3 linked regions of the Homo sapiens genome follow. The protein of the gene in region 3 interacts with the protein of the main gene of each other region in a biochemical or structural test. Each region holds a gene or a part of one and is shown on either strand. Other genes may lie near its edges. The genes, in order: TJP3, TJP1 and AKAP10.

What was found.
Region 1: the proteins of AKAP10 (region 3) and TJP3 interact in a test that uses a peptide from one of them, tested with the Homo sapiens proteins (one large-scale study listed by IntAct).
Region 2: the proteins of AKAP10 (region 3) and TJP1 interact in a test that uses a peptide from one of them, tested with the Homo sapiens proteins (one large-scale study listed by IntAct).

The regions. Positions count from the first base shown.
Region 1 is NC_000019.10:3,728,689-3,732,416, forward strand, and holds part of TJP3 (tight junction protein ZO-3), read left to right. Parts: coding exon 1-25; intron 26-1,339; coding exon 1,340-1,442; intron 1,443-1,666; coding exon 1,667-2,018; intron 2,019-3,246; coding exon 3,247-3,350; intron 3,351-3,728. UniProt on the Homo sapiens protein: TJP1, TJP2, and TJP3 are closely related scaffolding proteins that link tight junction (TJ) transmembrane proteins such as claudins, junctional adhesion molecules, and occludin to the actin cytoskeleton.
Region 2 is NC_000015.10:29,812,469-29,815,968, forward strand, and holds part of TJP1 (tight junction protein 1), read right to left. Parts: intron 1-3,500. UniProt on the Homo sapiens protein: TJP1, TJP2, and TJP3 are closely related scaffolding proteins that link tight junction (TJ) transmembrane proteins such as claudins, junctional adhesion molecules, and occludin to the actin cytoskeleton.
Region 3 is NC_000017.11:19,908,126-19,911,853, forward strand, and holds part of AKAP10 (A-kinase anchor protein 10, mitochondrial isoform 1 precursor), read right to left. Parts: intron 1,854-3,728; coding exon 1,801-1,853; intron 1,152-1,800; coding exon 1,056-1,151; intron 1-1,055. UniProt on the Homo sapiens protein: Differentially targeted protein that binds to type I and II regulatory subunits of protein kinase A and anchors them to the mitochondria or the plasma membrane.

The sequences.
Region 1 (3,728 bases), on a different chromosome or scaffold from region 3:
GAGGGCCGGCGGAGGGCAGGCTACAGTGAGTATCCAGGCAGCTGGGTTCTGGCGGGGGAGGGCACGTGGAGAGGAGAAACCAGGCCAGGCACAGTGACTCACACCCGTCATCCCAGCACTTTGCGAGGCTGAAGTGGGCGGATCACCTGAGTTCAGGAGTTTGAGACCAGCCTGGCCAACATGGTGAAACCCCGTCTCTACTAAAATTACAAAAATTAGCGGGATGTGGTAGCGTGTTCCTGTAATCCCAGCTACTCGGGAGGCTGAGGCAGGAGACTTGCTTGAACCCGGGAGGCAGAGGTTGCGGTGAGCCAAGATTGCGCCACTGCACTCCAGCCTGGGTGACAGAGTGAGACTCTGTCTCAAAAAGAAAGTAAGTGAGGTGAGGAGAAACCTTTGTGAGCCTGGCACTTTCCAGCTCTGTCAACACAGGGCTCGGACTTGGCAGTAGGACAGTGTCAGAGACTTGGGCCTCACTTCCCTAAGGTACTTCCTGGTCCTTCACAGGAATTCTTGGGGTCATAGTGGCCCCAGAGCCCTTTTGGAACATAAAGTCCTGGAAACCATCGAGTGTTTGAGGGTTTGATGCTTCTTGGAATTATGTTGTTAAAATGGTTCTGGGCCCCAAGTGGCTGACAGGTGATATGGCTCAGCCCAGCCCAGAATTAGGGACCACCAGGTTCAGAGAGAAAGAGCTAGAAAGAAAATATGAAATACAGACAGGAAGAGAGGGAAAGAAAAGCAGAAAGTGGGGATTTGTGGTGTGGGGAGCGAGGAGTGAGAAGATGCCAGGTGTAGCTGTAGCTTCAAGGCCGGGTGCAGTGGCTCACACCTGCAATCCCAGCACTTTGGGAGGCCGAGGTGGGCGGATTACCTGAGGTCAGGAGTTCAAAACCAGCCTGGCCAACATGGTGAAACCCCATCTCTACTAACAAATACAAAAATTAGACGGGTGTGGTGGCGGGCACCTGTAGTCCCAGCTACTAGGGAGGCTGAGGCAGAAGGATCGTTTGAAACGAGGAGGTGGAGGTTGCAGTGAGTTGAGATCATGCTACTGCAATCCAGCCTGGGCAACAGAGTGAGACTCTGTCTCAAAAAAAAAAAAAAAAATGTAGCTTCCACTCTATGATTATAGTAGGTTCTACAATTGGCTCCATTTTACAGGTGAGAAAACGGAGGCCCAGAAGGATAAATGTCTTTGTGAACCTAGGGACACCAATGAATTAGAACCAGGCCTTGTAGATCTGGAGGTTCCAGGGGCACCCCCTCCCCAGGGAGGGCTTGTTACGAGGGTCTCCCCTGCAAAGCCTCCTCCGTAAGACCCGCCCTCCTCTCTCAGGACAGGCGACCACATCGTCATGGTGAACGGGGTTTCCATGGAGAATGCCACCTCCGCGTTTGCCATTCAGATACTCAAGACCTGCACCAAGATGGCCAACATCGTGAGTAGGCAGCCCCTGGCATGGCCAGCATCTCTGACCCCAGCCTGGGTCGTGCCGCTGTGGGGGTTGTAAGCTTCTGAGAGCAAGGAGTCATCTTCTCATCTTACAGTTTGGACATTGAGGCCCAGAGAGAGACTGGTGTCCCCCAGGGCCACCCGGGGGCTGAGCAGAGCCTCCCCCAGCCCTTGCCTGTAGCTGACCCTTCCTGTCCCCTCCTCTAACAGACAGTGAAACGTCCCCGGAGGATCCACCTGCCCGCCACCAAAGCCAGCCCCTCCAGCCCAGGGCGCCAGGACTCGGATGAAGACGATGGGCCCCAGCGGGTGGAGGAGGTGGACCAGGGCCGGGGCTATGACGGCGACTCATCCAGTGGCTCCGGCCGCTCCTGGGACGAGCGCTCCCGCCGGCCGAGGCCTGGTCGCCGGGGCCGGGCCGGCAGCCATGGGCGTAGGAGCCCAGGTGGTGGCTCTGAGGCCAACGGGCTGGCCCTGGTGTCCGGCTTTAAGCGGCTGCCACGGCAGGACGTGCAGATGAAGCCTGTGAAGTCAGTGCTGGTGAAGAGGAGAGACAGCGAAGGTCAGAAGAGGCGGGAGGTCGGACACGATCAGTACTGGACACAGGGCACCGTGGTCGGATGGGCGACGGTTTCAAGTGATTCTCCTGCCTCAGCCTCCCTGGTGGCTGGGACTCCAGGCGCCCGCCACCATGCCTGGCTAATTTTTGTACTTTTGGTAGAGATGGGGCTTCACCATGTTGGCAAGGATGGTTTCGAATTCTTGACCTCAGGTGATTCACCCACCTCGGCCTCCCATAGTGCTTGCTGGGATTGTGGGCGTGAGCCACCGCGCCCAGCCTGGAAGCTACAACTACACCTGGCATCTTCTTGCTCCTCGCTCCCCCCACCACAAATCCCCACTTTCTGCTTTTCTGTCCCTTTCTGCCTGTCTGTATTTCATATATTCTCTCTAGCTCTTTCTCTCTGAACCTGGTGGTCCCTAATTCTGGGCTAGGTTGAGCCATATCACCTGTCAGCCACTTGGGGCCCAGAACCATTTTATCAACATGTCCCCGCGCTGATCCCCGGGACCTCTGTTTAGGCCACCTCACTTAGCAAGAGGGACTCAGCAGATGGGATGGAGTGAAGGACCCTGAGCTCAGAGGTGATCCTGGATGATCTGGGGGGCCCAGTGTCACCACAGGGTCCTTATAAGAGGAGGCCTGGCTGAGTGTGGTGGCTGATGCCTGTAATCCCAGCACTTTGGGAGGCCAAGGCAGGCAGATCACTTGAGGCCAGTAGTTCTAGACCAGCCTGACCACTATGATGAAACCCCATCTCTACTAGAAATACAAAAATTAGCCAGGCGTGGTGGTGTGCACCTGTAATCCCAGCTACCTGGGAGGCTGAGGCACGAGAATTGCTTAAACCCGGGAGGTAGAGGTTGCAGTGACCTGAGATTTTGCCACTGCACTCCAGCCCCGGCGATAGGAGTGAGACTCCTTCTCGAAAAAAATTAAAAAATAAAAAATAAAAATTGAAACAATGATGATGTTATGAGCAATAGAATGCCCTTAGCCTGTGCATGGCAACATCACGAGTGGCACGGTGACCTGGTGTCCCCGCCCCGTGGAGATGTCATTGACACAATCAGATCTCGGGTCCTACGGGCGACATCACTGTTCTCCTTATGATGCCATCAAGGTGTTAGGATGGGAGGGCCCGCACCTGGACTGCTTACAGCAGGAGAATGCTCCCAGGCACCCGTCTCCAGAGTCCTGCCTCAGTTTCCCTCCTCCCCCCTTACAGAGTTTGGCGTCAAGCTGGGCAGTCAGATCTTCATCAAGCACATTACAGATTCGGGCCTGGCTGCCCGGCACCGTGGGCTGCAGGAAGGAGATCTCATTCTACAGGTGAGGCCGGGCTTCTTGTCCTGAGAGCAGGGAGACAAGGCAGGGTTGGGGCGGGCAGTCCCACGGAGTCATACAGCAAGGACAGCAGAACTGGGCCCCAAAGCATTTACCTTCAGTGTTGTTGCTTGTATCTCAAAGGTTGCAGATGGCCAGGCATAAAACCCCCTTTTTCCCCAGCTACTACTAATCCACAGCCAAATGTCGGTTTCTAGTATCCCCATGGGGTTGTCTGTTTCTAATACCCTCTAGCTTTGATGTGCATCAGAGACTCATGTGGGCAGCTGACTCCTGGACCTACCCTAGGTGACTGGATGCTAATGACCCAGTCACCAGGTTTAGGGGAGCTGCCCTGCCCTAAAGGATGGTATCTTTCTGGAT
Region 2 (3,500 bases), on a different chromosome or scaffold from region 3:
CTGGGGCTGAGCAAGAGCTGCTTCCTTTAGACAAACTGGCTTGTGCTCTGATGGAGCAGTGCCCTCTCTTCTGGCTTTCATGATTCATGCTGCTTTTCTGGTCTAAGACTTACCTAACACCATCCCATACTCTTCTCCCTGGTGCTCTCTTACAACACACGAACATAAAAGGATGTGAATGTATGACTTATAGAACATGTAAGTAGATGTATGATTACCTATGGCAAGTAAATTTAACCTCAGATCCTTCACCTGTAAAAACAGAGATAATCGTAGTATCTAACAGAATTGTGAAGATTAAATGGGATAATGCACATAAAACACTTAGCTCAGTATCTGTCACAGAGTCAGCATGCAATATAAGGGGCTACTGTTTGTTTTGACACATATTTCTCACACTTATAACTAAAATGTAAGCCTACTTGCCATGGCTACTGACTTGATTTTTATAGGTGATACAGCATCAAAATAGTGTACTTCTGTATTAACACTCCAGTAAGTATTAATACTCCAATAACTGCCACTGTTAGAAAAAAAAAATCAGTAAATAAACCTTCCTTAGTACCTTTATATGACATTACCAGGAAAAACTTCCACAATTATATTTTGAAAGGCAGACTCATTTTTGCCAGATTCATGTATTTCCCCTGATTGTGGCTTTTGGTGGTCTGATCAGTCAGGTAAGTGGATATCTTACTACTAAAACATACTTCAATACTTACTACTAAAACATACTTTAGTATGACAAACATCTTAGTCATAAAATATCCTCCAAACTAAGACCAACTTGATTTTTCAAGATAATCATAGGAACACCAAAAGAAGCTTACTACCTTTTGCTCAGCTGTTGGTACTCCAATGACTGCCTCATAATGCATATCTAATTCTTGCCCCTCAGACAGACATATACAATATTTTTCTCCAAAAAGCCACAGAAGTCTAACTGAAACTATTTTCTCCCGAAACCAATAAAGTCCTCATACAATGGAATACCATGAAGTACAAGAACTGAATGAAAACTAATGAGCTACAGTTCTCCACAACATAATCTTACAAACATAATGCTGAGCAAAAGAAGCCATATACAACAGAATTCACACTAGAAGATTCTGTATGCGCAAAGTTCAGAGAGTCAAAACTAGTGCTTTCAGAATGCATAATTAGGTGGTAACTATAAAGAAAAACTAGAAAATGAGAAACCTAGAAGACAAGATACATGCAATCTTTGAAGAAGGGAGGATATGACCCAGAAAAGGCATGTTAGGGATTCTAGCACTTATCATTATGGACAGAATTTTATTTGCTGCTCTCTACCCGCACCATTAAAATGCCCTATCAGTACAGAGATGTGTTCACTGCTGCATCTCCAGCACCTACAACAGTGATTGGTACACACGAGGTAACCAACAAATATCTGCTGAATGTAAAATTCCGCTTTAGGAATCCAAATTGTTACATATTTCACAGCTTCTTGAACCCTAAATGTAACAGTAACAGCTAGTATAGTGTTCATTTGCCTTGTCAGTATATTCAAGGAGCTGTTAAGCATATAAGCCAATTACTTTATAATTCTTAATGTCTCCCTCCTATTGAGATATTGATACCAAACATATGCAGAAAACACTTACATCAATGTATCCAGATTCAATTCAAACATTTAAAAACATTAACAAGGAAAAATACAGAAACTCTGCTAAACAGCAAGCCCAGGTTTAGAAAATGACTTTGTCACCTCCTCCAACGAAGAAAGCACACAAGAATGCTCTGTTATTACAGGATGACCATAAGTTTGCTCGTATTTTTAAGAGTAAACAATGCAAATCCTTTGTTTCTTCAACAATGAGTTACACAATTCACAAAGTGATCATTACAGCGTATAGCAGTTGAAAACTGTAAATTTCTAGGATCGGGATCCCAAACAAAATGTACTCATTTAATATGTGTTAAGCTAACAAAAAGAATTAGTCATTACTGGTATCCTCCTGAATTTTAAAATTACATACTAAATTAAGTGAGCTAATCTTATATTAAGTTTAACTGGTGATATTCAGTTACCAGAAACTGTTGTACAATCTCCAAGATAATGACAATTCCAAAAGCGTGAAAATTCCTAAGATAACCAAGAAGAAAAATGAACTTTTCAGTCTTTGGGAATTTACATTTTTTTAAAAAGGAAAAAATATTTCGGTAAGTCAAAAAAAATTAATTAAACCAGGTATACGCTAATCTTATGTTCCTAATTAGAATCCACAGAAAGTAATATCAGCTTCTGTTTTACCTCCTTTCCGGACATGATAAACTAGAATTGAGATCATTCACCAGTTAACTCACTTCCCAGTATTTTCAGTATATCAACTGAAATATATCCGCAACACAAACTAATAAAACCTTATCTCTTGATCTATCCCAAAGTGAGGGCCACCTGAGATTCAGTATTGAGCACTACATATATGACAGGGTTTTGTTATCACATTTCAAATGGTGTTTTACAGTACAAAGTTTGGTAACATTGGTGTTCTCATGATCTAAAGCTGTGTTCTTGTGGTAAAGGCAATCATTCAGAGTCCATTTATTTTCATCCATGCTTAGGATATAAGATAAAACTCCCTACCCACGTATTCCCCACATACTGCTCATTATTAAGAATTTATCTGTTTAAGAGGAATGGAAATAAAGCACCTGGCTAGCCCATAAAGGAGCAACCTGAAGCCACTCTTCTCTGCAATAAATAAATAAAGATGCACTCTAGGTCAGAGAGAGCAAAAGTCTTATTTTTATTGCTGGCTTATGCAAGAAATACTGCAACACACCAATTTTATAGGATTAACTTTAAAATCTGTAAACTATCCTAATGTCTATTTCTTTCTACAAGACTAAAAGTTGTTAAAGTAAAAAGGTTTTTCAAGATTTGCTTTCAAAATTCAGAGGTGCAAAGCAAGTTCCAGTCAAATATTCCAGGAGGATCATTCTAGACATAAACTATCTTTTTATTTAACATATCAAAACTTTGCTAATTAGAAATGACTGGCTCATTCCACTAGCTTGTCTTCAGCTACTATAATGCTCAGTCATACACAATGCTGAGCACGTGAATGCTTTCAGGCAGGCCTGAAATGAGCAATGACTGAGCAGTCACAGATGGGTGGCACTACACATGAATTTACAGCTGGACTCATGGTCTTTCAGTAAGGTGAATTTTTATCATATCAGGGGTATGTCAAGTAACAGGATTACGTCTTCAAATTTTCCACCAAAACTATTATTTTTAAAGACATTTTCCTTAGCAGCATGGTGATCTATCATATTTATACACAGTTTTATTCTTAGAACTGTACAGAGTTTACATTTGGTCTCTAAACAGAAAAGAGATTAAAGAGCAAGTAAAAGTCAGAGCCAGACCTTGTTTCCAGGATTGGAGGGGAAAAAGGGAGTGGAACTACTGTACTTTTTTTCCTTCAAATCAAACGGGAAGCAGTACTACATATACTGCGTTACAGCCC
Region 3 (3,728 bases):
AAGTGCTGGGATTACAGGCATGAGCCACTGCGCCCAGCCTGGACGTCAGACATTCTAACTTTACACTGTGAAGTGCTGAATTTTGTTGTGTTACTGTAAAGAGGGTTAGGCCTTTGTTTTGGCATGCAGTTGTTAGGTAATTTGACCCTTTAAAAATTTGCTTTGAAACTTGGTTCAGGTGCTTGTACTCTAGGACTAATTTATCTTCAGTAGTAAGGCATAACCTCTGTGAAGACACTACCCAATGCCTTGTGTATTACTAAGTCTCTCTACTCTGGCCAGATCCTTCTGGCCATGAACTTTTCTTAGCCCTATGTTCCAGCAATCATTCAGCCTACTAATTTCTGGGGGGTTCTCTACCTGGACACATGCGTTTTCACCCCACACATATACAGATCACTCCTAGGCCAAGGATCCATGGGAATCTCTCTAAATATCTCTACGGCTTTCTTTCTGGGCAGCTTCCTCTTTTCTGCTACCTTATCCTACAACTTCTACTCAAATTGAGCTCTCTGAACTTTGATTTTTTTTTTGAAATGGGGTTTCGCTCGTCGCCCAGGCTGGAGTGCAGTGGTGTGATCTCGGCTCACTGCAACCTCCGCCTCCCTGGTTCAAGCGATTCTCCTGCCTCAGCCTCCCAAATAGTTGGGATTACAGGTGCCTGCCACCACACCCGGCTAAGACAGGGTTTCACCATGTTGGCCAGGCTGGTCTTGAACTCCTGACCTCAAGTGATTCACCCGCCTTGGCCTCCCAAAGTGCTGGGATTACAGGCGTGAGCCACTGCACCTGGCCTGAACTTTGATATTTAACTCTTTCGTTCAGCAAGACTACTGGGCTCTGTTTGGTTTCCATGGTTTCCCTGTATTGCCCATTGTCCAATATATGCAAACAGTTGTTTCATTTAGTTTGTCAATTTTCTAGTTGCTTATGATAAGAAGGTAATCCCCACAGCAGTTAATCCTTCAAAGGCAAAGAAACCCCTTATGTTCTTTTTTATTTTTACACCTGGAAAATAATACTTTTTAGTTTACACAAAACGAAGTCATCCTTACCTTTGTAGATTTCTCTAACGGTTGATCATACTGAGCCTGCTGCATAATGTCACTGACTATCATTTTAGCAATCTTCCAAGCTAGCTCTTCCTGGGCCTAAAGAAAATAATTTAAACTGGTGATAATGGTTATTCATTAGATGGATCGAGATGCACATACTCAGTGCTCTTAACAAATGGCTTACGCACATAATTTCTACTTATTTGGATAAGAATTTCATTCCCATGTACGAAAAAACCTGGGCCACCCTCTGGCTATGAATATTAACATGTCATTCCCTGTCTTCCAGTGTCAACTACTGGATACCTAACACCGAACTACTTTCATATTAGATGGTCAAAATAAAACATTTTCCTTTTTTCACCTCCCATCTCTCAATGTACTTAATTAACTATTAAAAAAGCAAGCCTCCACTACTTGAAGTAAAACTGCCAGTGGGGAAGGAAACATTTGAGCTTTTGATCTACACACTGATTACTGATGCCTGCTGGCTGATGGAAACTTGAATGCATGTATATCCTTCAGTGGTCCTAGCCTCTGACTGAAGATACCTTCACTGCTACTACCAGGCAATTGTTAGATGTTAAGAAGGGACCACCCTTTCTTGGTACATTCTGGGTAAGAGAACATAAATGTGCCATGCTGCTTAAACATGGGACCTAAAGAAAAGGAAAATTTTAAACCTCACTTACATGAGGGTGGCACTTATAAACAGAAATCTTTTTATCCTAAAGGTAGGATTTACCTCATCAGTATTTCCTTGCACCCATTTCTTCATAGCTTGTGAGAACATGGATCCTAGTAAACAAAGACAAAATTGAATGTACATTTCATGCATAATTTTACATTAAAAATGCTCTTATTTGGCTGGCCATGGTGGTTCATGCCTGTAATTCCAGCACTTTGGGAGGCCGAGGTGGGTGATTCACCTGAGGTTAAGAGTTCAAGACCAGCCTGGCCAACATGGTGAAACCTGTCTCTACTAAAATAATAAAAATCAGCCAGGCATGGTAGCAGGTGCCTATAATCCCAGCTACTCAGGAGGCTGAGGCAGAAGAATTGCTTGAACCTGGGAGCAGAGGTTGAAGCGAGCTGAGATCGTGCCACTGCACTCCAACCTGGGCAACAGAGCGAGACTCCAACTCAAAAAAAAAAAAAAAAACCACTATCACCACCACCACCACAATGCTCTTATTTAAAAGCTGTTGCTTCCAGATATGGATATTCTTTTTTGTGTGATACCCCAAAACACTAAGGAATGTTACATTAATAAAAACTGATTATATTGCTTACATAACAGAGCATTTAACTTGCAAACATCATGGCTTGAAAAACTTTTGAAAAGGTGTTTCAGAGTTCTGGACTTTTCTTCTACTCTCCTCACTTGATGAAAGAACTAACATCTAGTGTTAGTTTGTGGCAAACATTAAAAAACAAAACAAAACCAAACCAAACCCTAACCAGGATAATGCTCTTGGGTAAGAATCTAGCAATACATTGGGAGACACCAACACATTTGTTATGTTTTCAAACCTTCCAGACCAGCTCCTATATAAAAGGGCTTCTAAGACAGAGTATGCTGCTACATTCTAGTTCTCTAGTCTATATAAACTAGCTGGGTGAGAGAAGAGTTTCAAAGAGCTCTACTCTATCCAAGCCAGAGTACGCCTTAACTCCCTAGGATGTATAAGCCCACATCTGTAATCACATGCTGAGAATCATCCGAAGTAGGCCAGCCTCTATTTCTATGAATGAAATACACAGCTTACTTTTTTATTTAATAATTTGAACATGCTCACTTCCTAACTTTGCTTTAAAACAAGTTAATTGTTGGTAGATTATTTCTTGAGGCAAGGTCCTGTTTAATTCAATAACTGAATTCATAAAAAATACAAAACCTGGATCCTTTTCCCTCAATTTTTATTATTACCTAAGGGTTTAAATATTGGTTTAATGAAATTTTACTGCCAACCAGAGTCTACAGAGTCACAGTGTTAAATGCTCTGCATGAAGGCTCAACTGGCTGTTGAATCACCCCATGCACTGTTCTCTCGTCAGGCCCCCCTGCAGAGTCACTCTATTGACATGTTAGAAAACCCATGTTAAAAAAACTCAATCTACCTTCCCAATTTACACATGAAATCTGCCACCAAATTTCACCTTAGAATTCAACCTTGGACATATCATAAATCCGACCTTCCCTCTAATTCTTGCTACCACTACCTAACTTTGAATCTTTTTCTTCTCCTATCAACATTACCAGCTAATTCCACTGGCTGACTGGTGTCCCTCATGCCAGTCTCTCCCACCTCCAATTCATTCTCATTCTACTGACAGGGAAAAGCATCTGGTTAGAACTCTGTTTAGAAATCTCTGGGCTGGGCGCGGTGGCTCACGCCTGTAATTTCAGAACTTTGGGTGGCTGAGGCGGGAGGATCACCTGAGGTCAGGAGTTCGAGACCAGCCACAACATGGAGAAACCCCGTCTCTACTAAAAATACAAAATTAGCCAGGCGTGGTGGTGCATGGCTGTAATCCCAGCTACTCGGGAGGCTGAGGCAGGAGAATTGCTTGAACCTGGGAGGTGGAGGTTGTGGTGAGCCGAGATCACGCCATTGCACTCCAGCCTCGGCAACAAGAGCAAAACTCTGTCACAAAAAAAAAAAAAAAAAA